2 separate regions of the Homo sapiens genome follow, and region 2 is linked to region 1. Evidence: fine-mapped expression QTL. Tissue or cell type: cerebellar hemisphere. Region 1 holds a variant in brackets; the other region holds the start of a gene. All regions are shown on one strand. Distances are from middle to middle.

What was found.
Region 2: KLHL30 starts here. The variant in region 1 is fine-mapped to the expression of KLHL30 in cerebellar hemisphere (GTEx, PIP above 0.99). The same link has a PIP of 0.9 or more in cerebellum.

The regions. Positions count from the first base shown.
Region 1 is chr2:238,095,796-238,104,110 of GRCh38, reverse strand. It overlaps SCLY (selenocysteine lyase), which reads right to left. Exons shown (of 12, transcript NM_016510.7): 11 at 7,235-7,310; 12 at 4,698-5,909. The coding sequence ends at 5,756. It overlaps ESPNL (espin like), which reads right to left and starts at 3,771. Exons shown (of 9, transcript NM_194312.4): 1 at 3,398-3,771; 2 at 1,980-2,170. The coding sequence starts at 3,691. UBE2F-SCLY (UBE2F-SCLY readthrough (NMD candidate)) reads right to left here. Exons shown (of 19, transcript NR_037904.1): 18 at 7,235-7,310; 19 at 4,698-5,909. RefSeq lists enhancers at 1,394-1,563, 5,329-5,623, 5,258-5,926, 5,927-6,594, 6,595-7,263 and 1 more. The variant A/G (reference allele first, on the strand shown) is at 4,549.
Region 2 is chr2:238,133,847-238,142,161 of GRCh38, reverse strand. KLHL30 (kelch like family member 30) reads right to left here and starts at 3,494. Exons shown (of 8, transcript NM_198582.4): 1 at 3,404-3,494; 2 at 634-1,477. The coding sequence starts at 1,407. RefSeq lists an enhancer at 725-1,238.

The DNA of each region.
Region 1 (8,315 bases):
TCAGGAGGGGAAGCTGAGGAGTAATGAAGGGATCTCACGAGCACCCCCACACCTGCTCCCCACTTCTGATAGACGAATCTGAGCAACTCAGTGTCCACCCCAGAGGAGAGTCCAGTCACAGGCCTCAGCTGGCAGAGGGGAAACAGAGGCTGGGAGCTGATTTGTCCAGGGACTTGCACCTGGGTTTGAATTCCCCTCCCCTCACAAAGTCCCCCAGTACCAGCCCCCTAGCAGCCTCTCCCCTGCTCCTAGCAAGGGGGACACAGGACCTTGGTGGCTGCTTTCTGGCCTTGGACCACACAGGGATCGTCCCCTGCACCTGCAGAGCCTGAGGGTCCACTCCCTCATGGAATGTGCCCCAAAGGGCTGCCAGTATGCCTTGGTGCCCTTCTCAGGGGAGGATCCGTGCTTTCACCAGACTCTGCCAGGTGTCCTTGACTGCATCCAGGGTTGGAACAGGTGGTGTCCAGCGCGGTGGCTGGGAGCAGGCCATGATGCAGCCAGTGGGTCGGGGGCAACTGGAGGGGGCATGGTCTGGCCAGGGGCAGCCACCTCTCGGCTGCTGCTGGTCAATGCCAGGCGGGAACTAGGCCGGGGGTACAGGACCTTCCCATTTGTGTGTGCGTGTGTGCGTGTGTGTGTGCATATTAACATGAAGCCTCCTGGTTTTCTTCTTTTTTTTGAGACATGGTCTTGCTCTATCGCCCAGGCTGGAGTGCAGTGGCACAATCCCAGCTTACTGCAACCTCCGCCTCCCAGACTCAAGTGATCCTCCCACCTCAGCCTCCTGAGTTGCTGGGACTACAGGCAGTCACCACCATGCCTGGCTAATTTTTAAATAAATTTTTTTGTAGAGATGGAGGTCTCGCTACATTGCCCAGGCCAGTCTTGAATTCCTGGGCTCAAGCAATCCTCCAGCCCCAGCCTCCCAAGATGCTGGGATTACAGGCATGAGCCACTGTGCTCGGCCCAAGTCTCCCAGTTTTCAATGGTGGAAACTTCTTTAAAAGCCGTGTGGGTCTGAGAGAGACTGTGGCCAGCCAAGGCTGAGGGTGGTGTGGACGCTCTGGAGAAAAGCCACAGAAGCGAATCCCAAAGGCCTTTGCCAAGCAGTCCAGGATGGGAACACCCGGGAATGAGAACCCGATTCCACAAGCAAGCTGTCGGGGCTTGTCCTGGAGCTAAGGGGGTGTGGGGGACTGAGGCCTCTGGGGCAGCGACAGGAAAATGAGATGCTGCCTCGAAAAGAGAAGAGCCGTGGTCAGAGGTAGGTGGGTCCCTGGGGGACAGGAAGGTTCGCCCTCAGCCAAGACAGTAGGAGGCAGAGGGCCTGTTCCTATGACAACAGTGACCTTTGTAAGCAGGGCGAGGACTGGAGGAGCTTCCAGGTGGGGAGGGAGGCCATCTGCCTTACTGGCTGTCCTGACCCTGGTCCTTCCTCGTTGCCCATCCACTAATTCCAGCAGGGGGCACAGGGCCCCAGAGACGATGAGGCCAGCGCCCGGCTCTAGGGGTCCCAGCACAGGGGTGGGGCAGTGCAGAGGCAGCTCCAGCCTCTGTGTCCCCAAGTCCACTAGACAGTCCCCACTCCTGTCAGGTGATGGGAGGGTGCCCTCACAGGTTGCCAGCTGCCCACGTCCCCAGCTGTTTTAGGTCCCGAGATGCCCCCAGGTGGGGCCAGAGCTGCCCTGGGCATCACAGCAGCATCTTGCCATCGTCACCGCCCCCAGCCACTCTCCAAGCTGAAGCACTGGCCTGTGTCCCCTTGGGCCCTGGCATGGCACTGCCACTGCCTGGCCTGTGGGTAGAGGCCTCATTGCCCTTGGCTCCTGCCAGCTCACCCCCACAGTGACAGCATGCCCGCCTGCAGGATTCACCTCAAAGGCCACCAGCCTGTCCTCTTGGCCCTCCATGGTGCAGCCTCCCCTTGGCCAGCTCGCCCCAGGCTGCCCCCCCAGGCGGGACTTTGGGCTCCTTACCTGCCATGCGCGGCTGTCAGGAGCTTGAGGCAGGTCAGGTCCCCACTGACGGCAGCGTGGTGCAGCGGCCGGGCTCCCTCCCGGGTCTCTAGCGTGGCCGAGTGGCCCTCGTGGAGCAGCCACTCCACCAGCACTGGGTGTCCAAAACGGGCGGCCAGGTGCAGCGGGGAGACGCCCGAGGCATCTTGGTCCTACCAAGCCCCGGGTAGGTCAGTGAGTGGGGGGTAGGCCGTGAGGTCAGAGCCAGCTGCCGGAGGTGGGCCCTGGGCGAGGGCTCACACTGCCTGCAACCCAGTGAAGGGGCTTCCAGCTCCTTCCTCCTTCCCTCCGTTTCTGCCTGCAACATGGAGGGAGGTGCTCCCTGCTGGGACTGAGGTGAGAGGAGGGCCAGGACTCAGGTCCAGGTCTTGGGAGGCCACCTCTGGCAACCCTGCCCTCTCCTGGGCCCGTCCCCAGTGTGGAGAAGGCCCTTTCCCACGCAGTCGGGTGCCCGCAGACACCTGCCCACTCTGCTCATGGTCAGAAAGGCTTCCCAGGACACCTACCTCTGGCTGGTCCCCTGCCCCAGTGCCCTCCCGCTGGCCACAGGGTCCCGGGGCCAGGGAGCGTTCCTACCACAGGTGTCAGGGGTCCAGCAGACCTGGGCCTTCTCCAAGGGCCCTGTCAGAATGGATCCCCAGGCAGGCACAGCTCCCGCCTGCTGCCCTTGGGTTTGGCGGAAGGGCCGACAGGAACAGGATGCTGGGCCGGGACTCTCAGGTGCTCTGGCGAGCCAGGTGCTGGGGAACCTTCCCGCTCCGCAGTCTAAGCAGGCCCCACCGGCCCCCACCTCAACTCTGACCTCTGGGCGGCGGCGTTCTAAGGCCGGTCAGTCCTGCTCACCCTCAGCCCTGAAAGCTCCACAGGGCTGAGCGACAGCTCTAAGGGCCTCGCCTGCACAAAGGGGACTGGGCAGGCAGGATAGGGGAGGGGGGCCCAGTAGAAACGATCCGGACAAGACGATCACCATCAGCAGCCCTAACTCCCGTCCCCCAGGGCTAGGCTCCCAGCTCTCAAGCCCAAGTTCCCACAGTGCTTCTGTAAGGATCCCTTTCTAGACCCTTTGGGAGGCAGGCCCTGTGGACCAGGCCTGATCAGAGACAGGGGTCCTGATATCTGGCAAGACCCCCACTGGCAACGCCCAGCTTCCTGGCAGGGAAGGTGATAAGAAAATTTAGGAGGTGTTCTTGGCTCTCAAGCCTTTGTGCTCTGAGAGGCGTGGGGCAGAGACGGTAACCACTGACTGAGTCCCCAAGAGAAACAAAGGGCCCAGGGCCATGGAGCCCGGGGTGGCCAGTACTCTGATCCTCCGTGGCTCACACCTCCCTGGTTCCACCCCAGCCAGCTTCGTGGAGCCAGGCTGCCCCATCCCCGCTCACCTGCAGACCGCAGCCCCCCTCGCGGACCAGCCAGCACAGCTCGGCCAGGCTGCCCGTGGCAGCGGCGTCATGCGCTGGGGTGGCCCCGTTGTGGGCCCGCTGGTTGCCGGGCAGCTGGGCCCGCTGCACCAAGAACTTGACGCAGTCCAGGTGGCCAGCCCGGGTGGCGTGGTGAACCAGGCCGGCCCCCAGAGCATCGGTGATGCCCGGGCCCAGGGCGCCAGCCTCCAGCAGCCGCTCCAACGTCGCCACATCCCCATCCTTGGCGGCCACGAGTGCCCGCTGCTTCTCCATCCTCTGGCCCGGGCTCTCAGTGGCGACTCATGCACAGGCTGGGGCTTCCTGTTTCAGACGTGGATGAAGCTGCCGGCTCTGGTTACCCGATAAGCTGCCACAGGGCAGATGGGAGGCGGTGGGGTGGGGTCGGGTGGGGGGACAGGCCTTGAGGACCTGCCCAAGCCACTCCCACAGTGTGAGGGTGCCAGGTGCCTGGAGCTGGGAGGATGGAGTACAGGGCACAGGGAAAGGCCCACACCAGGCTAGGTCAGGGCTGGGTATGGCCAGCAGAGAAAGGAGGCTGGCCCTGAGGCTGCTCAGATCTGTCCAGATGGCAGGAACTTCATCTGTGGAGCGAGGGCTGAGGATACACGCCACTGAGCTTCTCACAGGAGCCCCGAGTGGCCTGGGAGACAGTTCCCCCAACTCTCACAGAAGGGCAGACCCCCAGCCGCCACCACAGTGTGTCTGAAGTAAAGGGTGCCCAGTAGGTCTACATGTTTGGCTGTGTTGACACCCACAGAGCTGAGCGCCCCGCCTCTGGGTCCCGGCCCTCGGCCCTGGAGGCTCCTAGGAATCTCTGGGGACACAGTGGCTCCACGGGGCCTGCAATGGGCTCAGGACCCTGACTTGGGTGTGTCCAGGCCTCTGAGGCGAGAAGGTGTCAGCCCCTGCCTCGGCCCCCTCTCCAACTACACGGACCAAGTCTCTGGGCTGCAGCCCCAAGGGCCCAAGTACATTTAACCCCTTTCCAGATTGTTCTGGACAATCCATAGTTCTTCTTTAGGGAAGTCAGGACCACCACAGCCTCTTCCTGGCAGCAATGGGAAGCTGCAGATGGGGGACCCATTACATTTGTAGGGGCTTCCGGAGAC[A/G]CAGCCTCAAGCTGGATTTCTGGGCTAACGCATCATCACACAATGGTGACCTGGGGGCTGCTGCACCCCTGGCTTCCCCCCGACAGGCTCTGTCAGATGACTTTGTGCCCAAGCGCAGTGCCCACTAGAGAAACCACAGGATCCCCAAGTCGGGCACTGAAATCTTTTATTCGTTAATTTAGTTTCTGGCAAGTGTTTCCTCAAAATCATCAAGTAGTTCCTTGAACCGTAAAACCACACATTAAAAATGTTATTCCACTGAAAATGACTCCTATGCAAATATCGACATGTGATGTGTGTCCAAATGCCAGAGCATTTTGAGAAAAGAATCCTCTGCAAATAAAATTAAGGTAAAAGCTGAGTCAGGGATGATCCGATTCCCACCCCAGGAATGACCTGGAGCTGCACCAACTCAGCGAGGTTGGAGCTGAAACCCTGAGTTAATAATGATCAAAAGGGACAAGACAGGAAGGCCTGGGGACCGTGGACAGGGAAGTGCGCAGCCCTGATTGCCAGTGGGCGGAACAGGGTCAGGCTCGGGGAAGCAGGAGGGGTGGTGGGCGGTGGGCGCTGAGCAGAGCAGGCCTGGCCGAGGCTGGGGGCCACTGTGCACTGAGGCCAGAGGAGCAGGGTGGTGGGGGCAGCTTTGGAAAGGGACTAAAAAGGGCCTGAGAAGAGACCACTCTGGAAAGGTGCATGTAGAGGCCATGATCAAAACAAAAAAATCAAGTTTCCTACGTTCATGATAGCATTTGGCTGACAATGAGTTATAAATACTTGGATTCTATCTTCCAGATAAAAACACCTTCCAGGAAAGGGCACTCACAACAGGCGTGCCCAGTTCCCAGTGGGGAGGGTGGATAAAGCTAAGTGTTTCCGCTTCACCACTGGAGGACGGTTCTATGTGGGCGGTCCCATGTGGGCGGTCCCATGTGGGCGGTCCCATGTGGGCGGTCCTATGTGGGCGGTCCTATGTGGGCGGTCCCATGTGGGCAGTCCTATGCGGCGTTGGTGTCCTGGGCCCTGTGAGCTCTGCAGGGGTCCAGGGAAGGAAACTGGGGGTGCACACTCGCTGGCACTCCAGGACAAAATGCAGAGGGGGCATGAGACAGTCATCCTGGCACAGCCCTCAGGAGGGAACTGGAGGGACAACCCTGTGCCCTGCCACGGGCTTCCCAGAAGCGGGGTGGGGAAGGCGGCCCCAGTGCTAGGCCTGGTCCTCCAGCTGCGCCACGGCCTGCTTCAGGTCCTGCACGACGAGGTCCACCTCGGCCCTGGTGGTGCTGCGGCCCACGCTGAGCCGGAGCGCGTTCCTGGCCACGTCGAAGGGGACACCGTAGCTCAGCAGCACTGGGGACGGCCTGGGGAGGGCGAGACCGAGCTGCAGCTGCTGCTGAGGGCACATGGAAGAGACACAGCCCCCCCTGCTCTGGACCACTCCCCTAGTGGGGCTCTGCCCACCCGGATGTGCGCCTGCCTCGCCTGGCATCCACCTCCTGCTAAACTCCCAGACCAAGCACACCCCTAAGATCACCCACATCAAGGTGTGGCTCAAAGTCGCCCCCGTTCTCCCTGCAGAGTTCTCTTGCACTTGGCACTCCCAGGTGACACTGCCTCCCTCTCGCACTGAGCTCTGGGGCCAGGGGCTCTCCTGTCCTTGAGGGGTCTGAGGTCCTGGAGAACACGGATGCCGACACAGACAGTGCCTTACCCATGCGGCCCACCTGAGCCACTTGGTAACTTCATGGCACCTAGCATGGGGCTTTGCAGACACTAGGGACCCAGTCAGTATCTAGCCATGAACAGATGACTGCGTGGGGACATCCTGAAGCAAGGCTGTTGGAGGCTCGAGATGTGGGCTCTGTCAAGGGGCCTGACCTCATCACACCCGGGTCCCTTTCCTCCCCTGCCCCTCCTGCAGCAGGGCACTGTCCCCCCAACAAAGGGCCCCATCCTGCCCCTCCTTTTCCCTGGAGCCAGGCCCACCACTGTCTCGCTCCAGGTGCTCCTGCACAATCCCTCTGCCCTGACCTTGATGGCCACGTGCTGCTGGCTACAGTTCCGCTCTCTCCCCAGAACCCTGAGTGTTCCTCCTGCGTCCACTCCGACCTCCCACAGGGGCCTCACGTTTTCAGCAGACCAGACCCAGAACCACTTCTCCCCTGCTGCCAGCAGGCCGCTGCTCGGGCACCCCACGCCCTCTACCCCACAGTCTCCGCCAGGCAGCCCACCCGCTCACCCGGGCCCTGCTATCTGAGAATCTCTGCTGCATCTTGCAGATGGCTGATCTGACACCTGAGTCTGCTCACACCATGGCCCTCAGGGCTCCCACTTCCATGAGGTTTAAGTAAGCACTGACACTCAGGCCATCCCCACCCCAGCCCACCCCAGCCCGCCCCAGCCCTCCCCAGCCCCGGCCACGCTGGCCCTCCAGGCCCTGCCCTCCCTCCGCCTTCAGAACTGAGCACGAGAAGCCCTCTTCTCCCGCACAAGTCCTAGTCCTTCAGATGGCAGCTTGGAAGTCACTTCTTCCAGGAAGCCCTCCCTCTGCCCCTCCTAGGGCCCAGACAGGGCTGTCCTTCACCAGCCAGAGTGCGGCCCAGTGGCCGGATCCTGCCGCCTGCCCACCACACCCAGTGCCCGGAGGACCCCTATGCCCTGGACTGGGTTTGTGAAGAGCACTTACTGGTCCCCGTGGTCCGAGTGGCACGCGGCCCCCACACTGGCCATCAGCACTCGGCACTGCGCAAGCACCACGTGGCCTGCGGAGACAGAGCACATGCCCCTGAGATGGGGCTCCAGCCAGGTTGCCCTTCTGTCCCTTCCCGGGGTCCTGCTGGGCGCAGGCTGCTTCCCTCCCTCTGTGCCACCTGGTGGAATTCCAGCACTGGCCATTCTGGCAGCTGGGGAGAGATCTCACAGCAGGAGCCGAAGAAAACGCTTCCTTTCTCCCTTGGCTGCACAAACGCAGACACTATTCTGCCTCACAAAGCTGGCCTTGAAAATCGCATTTGTAATCAACTGCCTGCTAAGACACCTGGAGTCCTGACCCGCTCCTTCCTTACAAGCTGGCAGCCCCGGCAATATCACGTCTCCACCTGTGTTCTGGATGGTAGAGACACGTGGGAGTTCTATTAAGCCAGAAGGCATTTCCCTCTTCTTTCACAAGCACAGCCATTAATGACTGCTGATGTAATTAACCTGAGAATTTCAGCCAGGTGCAGTGGCTTACACCTGTAATCCCAGCACTTTGGGAGGCCAAGGTAGAAGGACTGCTTGAGCCAGGAGTTTGAGACCAGCCTGGGCAACACAGGGAAACCCTATCTCTACAAAATATTTTTTAAAAATTAGCCAAGGCCGGGCATAGTGGCTCATGCCTGTAATCCCAGCACTTTGGGGGGCCAAGGTGGGTGGATCGCCTGAGGTCAGGAGTTCGAGACCAGCCTTGCCAACATGGCAACACCCCGTGTCTACTTAAAATACAAAAATTAGCCCAGCGTGGTGGCAGGCACCTGTAATCCCAGCTACTCTGGACGCTGAGGCAGGAGAATCGCTTGAACCCAGGAGGTGGAGGTTGTGGTGAGCCGAGATCATACCACTGTACTCAAGCCTGGGCAATAAGAGTGAAACTCCATCTCAAAAAAAAAAAAAAAAGTTATCCAGGTGTGGTGGTGCATGCCTGTAGTCCCAGCTACTAGGGAGGCTGAGGCAGGAGGATCACTTGAACCCAGAAGGTCAAGGCTACAGTGGGCTGTGATTGCGCCACA
Region 2 (8,315 bases), 38 kb before region 1:
GGCCCCTGAGCAGGGTGCCCGGCAGCTGACCGAACAGCCACTCCCAGACCTGTCATTCCATCATGACCTGCCATGCCTGCCAGGCACACTGCCAGCACAAACAGGAAGTAGCACCCCATAAAAGCTCAGGCGGACTGCCAGGCCTGTCTGTGCCTCCTTGCCTGTGCACAAGCTGCACCTCCTTCCTGGATGGTTTTCCCCTCTTTTCCTCCTTGTGAGCTCCTATCCCTCCTCTAAGGCCCAGCTCAGATGCTGCCTCCTCCAGAGAGCCCTCCTTGACTGCCAGCCCACCCAGAATGCGTCCTAGGCATGTATTTGGCCCTTCCACACTGCCTGAGGTCTGTTTCCAGGCTTGTCCCACTGAGCTGCAGGCTCCTTCAGGACAGGGCCAGATCTTACCACTTCCACATTCCCCTGCCCCTTGCACACAGGGCGTGACACACACAGAGGCATGATCTGCACTTGAGGGCTGAATAGTGATGTCCTCATGGGGAACTGGCCCAAAACAAGGAGCGTGGCAAGGTCAGAGTGCACCTTGGAATGTCCACTCCTTACTCTGTCCCTACTCAGGTGGGGTCTCTGGGGCTCTCCTCCCTGCTTCCCAGGGATGGGGCCTCCCAGCCGCTCACTCACCCCATCATGGCCCTGGGACAGGGCTGCCCGGCATGCCTCTGACTCCTGGATCAGGGGCTCTGAGGCCAGCAGTTGCTGCACGCAGGGCCTGGGCACGGCGTCCAGGTGCACTAGGCTGAGCAGCTCGGGCAGGTGGGCGGCCCGGGCCTGCGGGTCATGGCGCACCCAGCGCATCAGGGCCTCGAGTCGGCTTTGCTCCGGCTGTACCTGCAGCAGGTCGCCGGCCAGACAAGTGACCAGCCGCTCTCGGGGAAGCTGCAGGAACTCGTCCTCACGTGCCACAGCCTCAAAGTTCTCTCGCAGGAAGGCCCAGGCCTTGGCAGCCACGCCCAGCAGCCCTTGCTGCTCCCCGAACTCACAGATGCCCAGGCAGTTGGCGGCATCCAGTTGCTGCTGCAGGTAGCGGCCGCAGACCTTCTGCACCGAGGGGAAGTGCAGGCGCGCAGCCGTGCGTGTCAGCGCCTCCACGTTGCCCTGCGTGATGGTCAGCCGGCCTGTGTACACGAAGTCCACCAGTTGTCCCACCACGGCGGGCTCCACGTCCCGCAGCTCCACGCGCGCAGAGAAGCTCTCGGCGAAGTCACCCGCAAACATGGCATGGAAGTAGGGGCTGCTGAGCGCCAGGAGGCCGCGGTGGCATGGCAGCTCCCGGCCGCCCACCAGCAGTGTGACGTCGGCCAGCTTGGGCTGAGAGCGCAGGCGCTGCAGGCCATCCAGCATGTCCTGGGCATGCGAGGGCAGGTGGAAATCCAGGTCATCCACGTTCCGCACCATGACGCCGTGCCCAGGGGACCTCAGTAGTCCACCCACTCAAGGGAAGAAGTGCCTGGAGCCGCCCGAGCTCCTAGGAGAGAAGAGAGCAGGGTCAGCCAAGTGGGGATGGTCTCATCCTCCTGAGCAACCCACCCGGTCTGTCCATCAGCCCTTTCCACCCCTTGATAAACACAGGATGGGCATCGACCATATGCCAGTCACTTTACCCCCCATCTGCCTCAAGCCACCCCCAGAACCCTGCAAGGTAGGGCAGGTGTCATTCCCATTTGCAGTGAGGAAATTGAGGTTCAGAGAGGGTGGGAGACCTACCCATGGCCAGGCATTCAGGGCAGAACAGGGTTGGCAAAAGAACCCATGCCCTGGGTGTCATCTGCAACCCTGGGCTACACTGAGCCCACCCCCCAGGGACCCCGGAGACACCCAAACTCCCGGGAGGCGTCCTCCGTCCCAGATCCCACATTGCTGGGGAGGCCATTTGGGGGCTGCAGCAGCTCCTGCTCCCGCGGTGCTCCCAGGTGCCAGGCCACGTGCCAAGCATGCAGAGAAGCTGTGCATTCACCACTCAGCCCCACAACAGTCCTGGAGGGTGGGTGCAATCATTGCCTCTTTTACAGCTGGGGAGACTGAGGCACAGAAGGTTTCAGTCACTTGCCCAAGATCACACATTTAGGAAGTGGTGGAGCTGGAATTTGAACTCAGAGCTAGGCTTGGGGGCCCAGGCTCTGAACCCTGCATTCCACGTGGCCGGGTGGAGGCTGCTAAACAGAAACGGCCAGCCAAAGGCAGCGTTCTGGAGGGTTTCGCGTCACCACGCCCGCATGGTTGAAGTCAGCAAGGCCGCTTTCAGGCTCATGTAATTATGTGCATGTGGTTTATGTCCTTCTGGTATCGCACCCTAAGACAACCATCCCTAGGAGAGATCAAGTCTGTGCACAAGCCTTCGACCCGGGTCACCCCAGGGCGAAAGGCTGCGCAGCGGAGAGGCCGTTCGCCCGCTAGGGGGCGCCTCGCGGGGCCATCCCGGGCAGGAGAGGCGGCCGCGCGTCCACAGGTACAAAATGCGTGGGAACGCCACGCATGGAAATGACAAAGCTCAGCTGGAGAACCAGGAGGCCAAGAATCTGGCCCGGGCAGCCACGGTGCAGGTACAGGTGCAGGCGATGGGAGCTAGGGCTCCCCGACTTCCCGACCCCGGTGCCACCTCTTGACCCCAGAGCGGGGAAGCACCTGGGAGCCCACAGGGCCTCGCGGACCAACCCGGGCTCGCGCACAGGGCAGCTCACGTGGCCGGGGCCCCACACCCCAGCATCCCGGCCGGTACACGAAGTACCCACCCAACACTGCATGCATGGGGTTCCTGCCTGGCCCCTCCCCAGGAGGCGCTGGCCCCGGTGAAGGCGGCTCTGCCCTCCCTGGGCAGCCGGGAGATGAGCTGGGGCCTGAGTAGGTGACAGGGCTGTCCCTGGGCCACCGCCTGCAGGCCTCACATTCCCGTCATTGTTGTGCTCCCTTGGGCCAGCTGCTGCCGGGCGATGGGCAGGCACGCATGAGCGCCCCCACTTCCCCTGGGGGCCTCGGGGTGCCTGCTGACACCTGTCACCCTGCAGTCCCTGCATGGGTCGGGGCTTCCTGAGGGTCTCAGAGCCTCACCCCAGTGCCTGCCCAGGCCCGGAGTGAGGAAGCCGAGTGGGCAGGACAACAAAAGGCCTGAGCCCAGCCAGGCTGGCGACTGTGGCTGAGTGGCCCTGGCTGCCATCTGAGGGGTGGCCCAGCCTCCCCCTCCCACCTCTCCGGCTGGGACATGGAGGGAAACCTGTCTCCTGAGCCCCCACCCTGAGGAGCCTGGCTTGGCCGCTGGCAAGGGCCAGGGGGCGTCTCCAAAGCACCCTGCTGTGATCCCTGGCCTCGGGGGCCTAACCCACCCTCCCCGCTGCTCCTGGCTGGGTTCCCCCTGCCCTCTCTGCTGTCCCCTGCCCCAGAGCCCCCTGGATCCTACCTCTCACTCAGCCTGGACCTCGAAGCTGAGAACACAGACCCGAGAGAGCAGGACTGCCTAGCCGGCAGCCAGGGGACACGGAGGCCTGCAGGGCGGGGCAGGGCTGGTCTGGTGGCCACGTGGGGAGGGTATTTTTAGCCTCTGTCTGCAGGGCGAGGGGAGGGTCAGGCAGTGAGGGCTGGGCTGGTGGGGGAAGGAGTGAGATGCCGGCTCCTTGGTGACTGTTAGCTCAGAAAGCCCACTGAGGCCTTCCAGGGACTTGTGGCCTAGGACAGACATCAGGAAGGGCTCCAGGGCAAGGACAGGTGAAAGCTGTCGCGGTTGGGCTGGCTGGTGGGGGCAGGGATGCAGCTTCCCCACCTGTTTCCTCGTCTACAAGTTGAGTACAGTGGAGCCCGTGGTGGGGGCCTGGGGTCACAGAGACCCTCAGCCCAGGGCCAGGACACCGACAGGTGCTGCCCTCGCTGTTGATGTCAGCGGCACCTATGTGTCCTCTTGTTCTGTTGTCACGTGGGAAAACGTGATTATCATGAATAAGCACAGGTTGGTCAGCAGAGGCTTTCCGAGCTTGGGGTCCATGGTGGCGGTAGGGAAACTTTGCCCAGAGAGGGGAGGTGCCACACTCAGTTGCCCCGCCCAGCTAGCGTGGATAGGGGAGATCTTGGGGCTCCTTGCCCTGCTACCCCATGGCCTTGGCCTCGGGGCTGCCCAGGACGGCTAAGAAACAGGGTCACCTAAAAATACAGCAGTGGACTATCAGCCTCCCGTCCAGCACTTGGTTCACGGTAGTCGCAGGGGGAAGCTCTCACGCCTGGGACTGAAATGGGCTCAGAACCACAGGCCCTGACCAAGGTCAGGTGGGTTGAGTTGGGGACCCAAGAGGCCACTGGACATTTCTCACACCAGTGACCAGAGCAGAGCTTTGTGGCTGAGGGACTTCAGGTGCATGGGAGAGAAGCCCTCAGCCCTCAGCCCTCTACCCATCGGCCATGTGGGCCTGAGCAGTATGACCATTTCCAGGTGTGCTGCGACCTGGAGGAACTGGGGAGTATTGGGTCTGGCTGTGGCCTCTTGATGCTACTAGGGATTGTCCTAATGCTCTTACAGACCAGAGAGGTCCAGGCGGCCCCCAGGGAGACAGAACCCCACTCCTGGTCCTGAGATGCACACAGCCTATGGAGGGGAAGCTCACCTACAAATTACTGCCAAGTCTGCAAGGTGCCCTTAGGGTTACCTTCCATAGAGATTCCCTGAGTCCATGCTTCCTCTACAGCCCAGCCTGGCCCAGCCATAGCCCAGCCATAGCTCAGCCCAGCTCAGCTATTGCCCAACCATAGCCCAGCCATAGCCCAGCCCAGCTCAGCTATTGCCCAACCATAGCCCAGCCATAGCCCAGTCCAGCTCAGCTATTGCCCAACCATAGCCCAGCCATAGCCCAGTCCAGCTCAGCTATTGCCCAGCCATAGCCCAGCCATAGCCCAGCCCAGCTCAGCCATAGTCCAGCCGTAGCCCAGCCGTAGCCCAGCCCAGCCTGGCCCCTGCTCCTGCTCTTTCCCCTGCTCGTGTCCCACACTGTCCCAGGGTTTTTCCCCAGCCTTGGGCATCAGCCTCATGTTGTGTGGGGGACCCTCATGGAGGACCCCAACTCTCGCTGTGTCCAGGACCACTATGGGGTGGGCGCTAGAGTGTTGGGTTTCCGTACTGTCCCCCTTGTTTGCAGTCCTGGCTCGGGCTGGAGGAAATGAGGACAGGGGATTCTGATGACAGGCTGCTGTCACGGGGAGCTGGCTCTGCTCGGGGAACAGCACTGCTTGCCAAGTGTGGAGGCCTCACAGCAGCCGTCGTGGGGCTCGGAGCCCCAGCACCTCAGATGACAGGTCAGTCTGGGAAACTCAACACCGGGGGCGCAAAACAGATCCTCCATCAAGAGATTGCTACTGAGTGGCGCAGTTTTTAAAAATACACCACTTGTTTCTTTTTATGAGGATAAAAATAACACAAGTTCCTTTTGGAAAACAGAAAAATAAAAAGCAGAAAGTGTCATTAGTAAAAGATCATTTGCCATTAGTATGCTTCCAGCTCTTTCCTGTTGTCAAAATGAGCCTGCCTGCGTGTGTGGGTCAGCGCCCTTTCCTCACACCTTGTTATATTGTGGGCGTTTCTGATGGGATCAGCACTTGAAGATTTTGAATTTCTGCCGGGCATGGTGGCTCATGCCTGTAATCCCAGCACTTTGGGAGGCTGAGGCGGGTGGATCACCTGAGGTCAGGAGTTTGAGATCAGCCTGGCCGACATAGTGAAACCCCATCTCTACTAAAAACACAACAATTAGCCAGGAGTAGTGGCGGTGCACACCTATAGTCCCAGCCCGCAGACCCTCCCGCCCCAGGCCAGGCTTCCGATGACTGCAGTTGGGCTGAGCACTTCATGGGACCCTCCTGAGACATCCTGAGGTGCAGCCACCCCACACACGTGCTCCCGAGGAGAAACTGAGAGACGATGCGTGTGACCATGCGTGTGTGCTGTTCAAGGACATTGGATTTCAGGCAGTTGACTATGCAGCACTAGGTCACTAGTACAGCAGACAAAAACATGTAAACAGCAGAGCAATGGGGGGCTTCCATCTCAGATACGAAGATGTCATCATTACAGCGTAAAATGCCATCAAACAAGGTGGTTTTGACCCAAGAATAAACAAATCCCAACAGCCAATGCACAGAAAGCGGTGCCACGGCAAGTCCGCAGGGAAGGAGGGGCCGTCTGACGTGTGAGAGTGCTGGTGAAAGGGAAACAAGGTCAGCCCGATGGAACCCAGGCCCCAAATCACCCCAGATGGAGTGAGAGGTGCTGTGCAGGGCTGTAAGGCCCCCGAGAAGGGGGCAGACTGATATGCGGACCCAGCCTGGGACATCCTCACAGCTGGAAGGCCCCCAGCCCAGCAGAGGGGAGCTCACTCACACAGTTTTTTGTTTGTTTGTTTGTTTGTCTCTTTGGAGATGGAGTCTCGCTTTATCACCCAGGTTGGAGTGCAGTGGTGCAATCTCCGCTCACGGCAACCTCCGCCTCCTGGGTTCAAGCGATTCTCCTGCCTCAGCCTCCTGAGTAGCTGGGATTACAGGTATGCACCACCATGCCCAGCTAATTTTTCTGTATTCTTAGTAGGGATGGGGTTTCACCATGTTGGCCAGGATGGTCTCCTGACCTCAAGTGATCTGCCTGCCTTGGCCTCCCAGAGTGCTGGGATTACAGGCGTGAGCCACTGCACCCGGCCTTACAGATTTTAACTCGGTGATTTCACGCTCGGAATCCATTCTGAGGGAATAATCACACAGGTGACACCACCTTCATTGTAATAGTCCCAAATGGAAAACAGCCTGAGCGTCCACGAACAGAAGGAGGTTATCACTCCCAGCTTCACAAAGAGCAACGTCATCCTATTGAGATGAAATTGAAAATCTTTTTTGTTTTTGAGACAGAGTCTTGCTCTGTCACCCAGGCTGGAGTGCAGTGGCATGAGCTCGGCTCACTACAACCTCTGCCTCCCAGGTTCGAGCAATTCTGCCTCAGCTTCCCGAGTAGCTGGGATTACAGGTGCCCGCCACCACGCCCAGCTAATTTTTGTGTTTTTAGTAGAGACGGGGTTTCACCATGTCGGCGAGGATGATCTTGATCTCTTGACCTCGTGATCCACCTGCCTCAGCCTCCCAAAGTGCTGGGATTACAGGCGTGAGCCACCGCACCCGGCCGACATTGAATTTTTAAATGAGCTGGGCTTTGCATTAAGCCTGTGCACCGACATGCAGGGAGCCCGCCCCTCTGCACATTGACCCAGCTGCGAGGGAGAAGCTGGGGTTCCAGCACCGCCCTTGGGGAGGGTTTCTGTTTTTCCACATCTCCATCCTGCCATCTATGGACTGGGGACACGGGGCTCCCTTTCTCCTGGATGTTTCTGACTCATGGGAAGCCCCCAGGCTTTGCGCCTTTGCTTTGCGTGTGACCACCTCACTGACATCGGCACCTCCGGGGTGCTGTAGATTCCGTCTCTGGTCCTCAGTGAGTCTTTTGTCAATTGAACAACAGATTTATAGGCACCAAATGGGCCCTACAGCTGTGAGTGTGGTGGCGCAGGGGCCAGTGCCTGCCTGCCCCCGGGGACACGTGCTTCCCACAGGTGAGCTGCTGGTGGGCCACGGGTGCCAGCTGCTGGGAATCGGAGCCGCCTGGAATGTGTTAAAACCCCAGCTTTCCAGACCTACCCCAGGCCAAGGGAATCAGAATCCCTGGGGCAGCTCCCCCAGAGGCAGGGTGTTGGCAGAAGGTCATTTAGGGGTCACCCCAGCAGCACTCCAGGGGCCTAGCCTGGATCTGAGCCACATCTCACCCCTCGCCTGGCTCATCCCACCCCAGGCTCTCCTGGGACCCCTGATGTGTGTGTCCCCTGCTGGCCTTGATCCAGCTCCTCAGCTGGGAAACTGAGGCCTGGAGGCTATGGAGGACTTGCCCAAGGGCATAGCGAGTGGGCAGGGACAGCCGGAGCCAGGAGGGCCGACTCCCTGCCCAGTGCTCTCTCTTGAGCACCCTCGGCCAGGGAGTGACCTGAGGCCTGCTGCCCCTGCCTCCAGCCCCCTCCTCTGTCAGGGCCCTCAGAACAACATTGCCAGCAGCTGGTGCATGAGGGGATCTCAGGAGACACTGCAGCGCCCAAACCTTCTGATGCCCCCAGCCAAGGGCTCTCCCTAGACCCACCTGCTGCCCCTTGCCCTCTGCCAGCCCTGGGCAGTGACCGCACTGGGTGGAGCAGCCCTGCTCTGTCTCCACTGGGGGCGTGTTGTGGCCAAGAGCCAGGGCCCCACTGACTGAGAGGCAGCGTTCAGGATGCTCCTGGCTGCTCCCAGTGCCCTGCTCGTTAGAA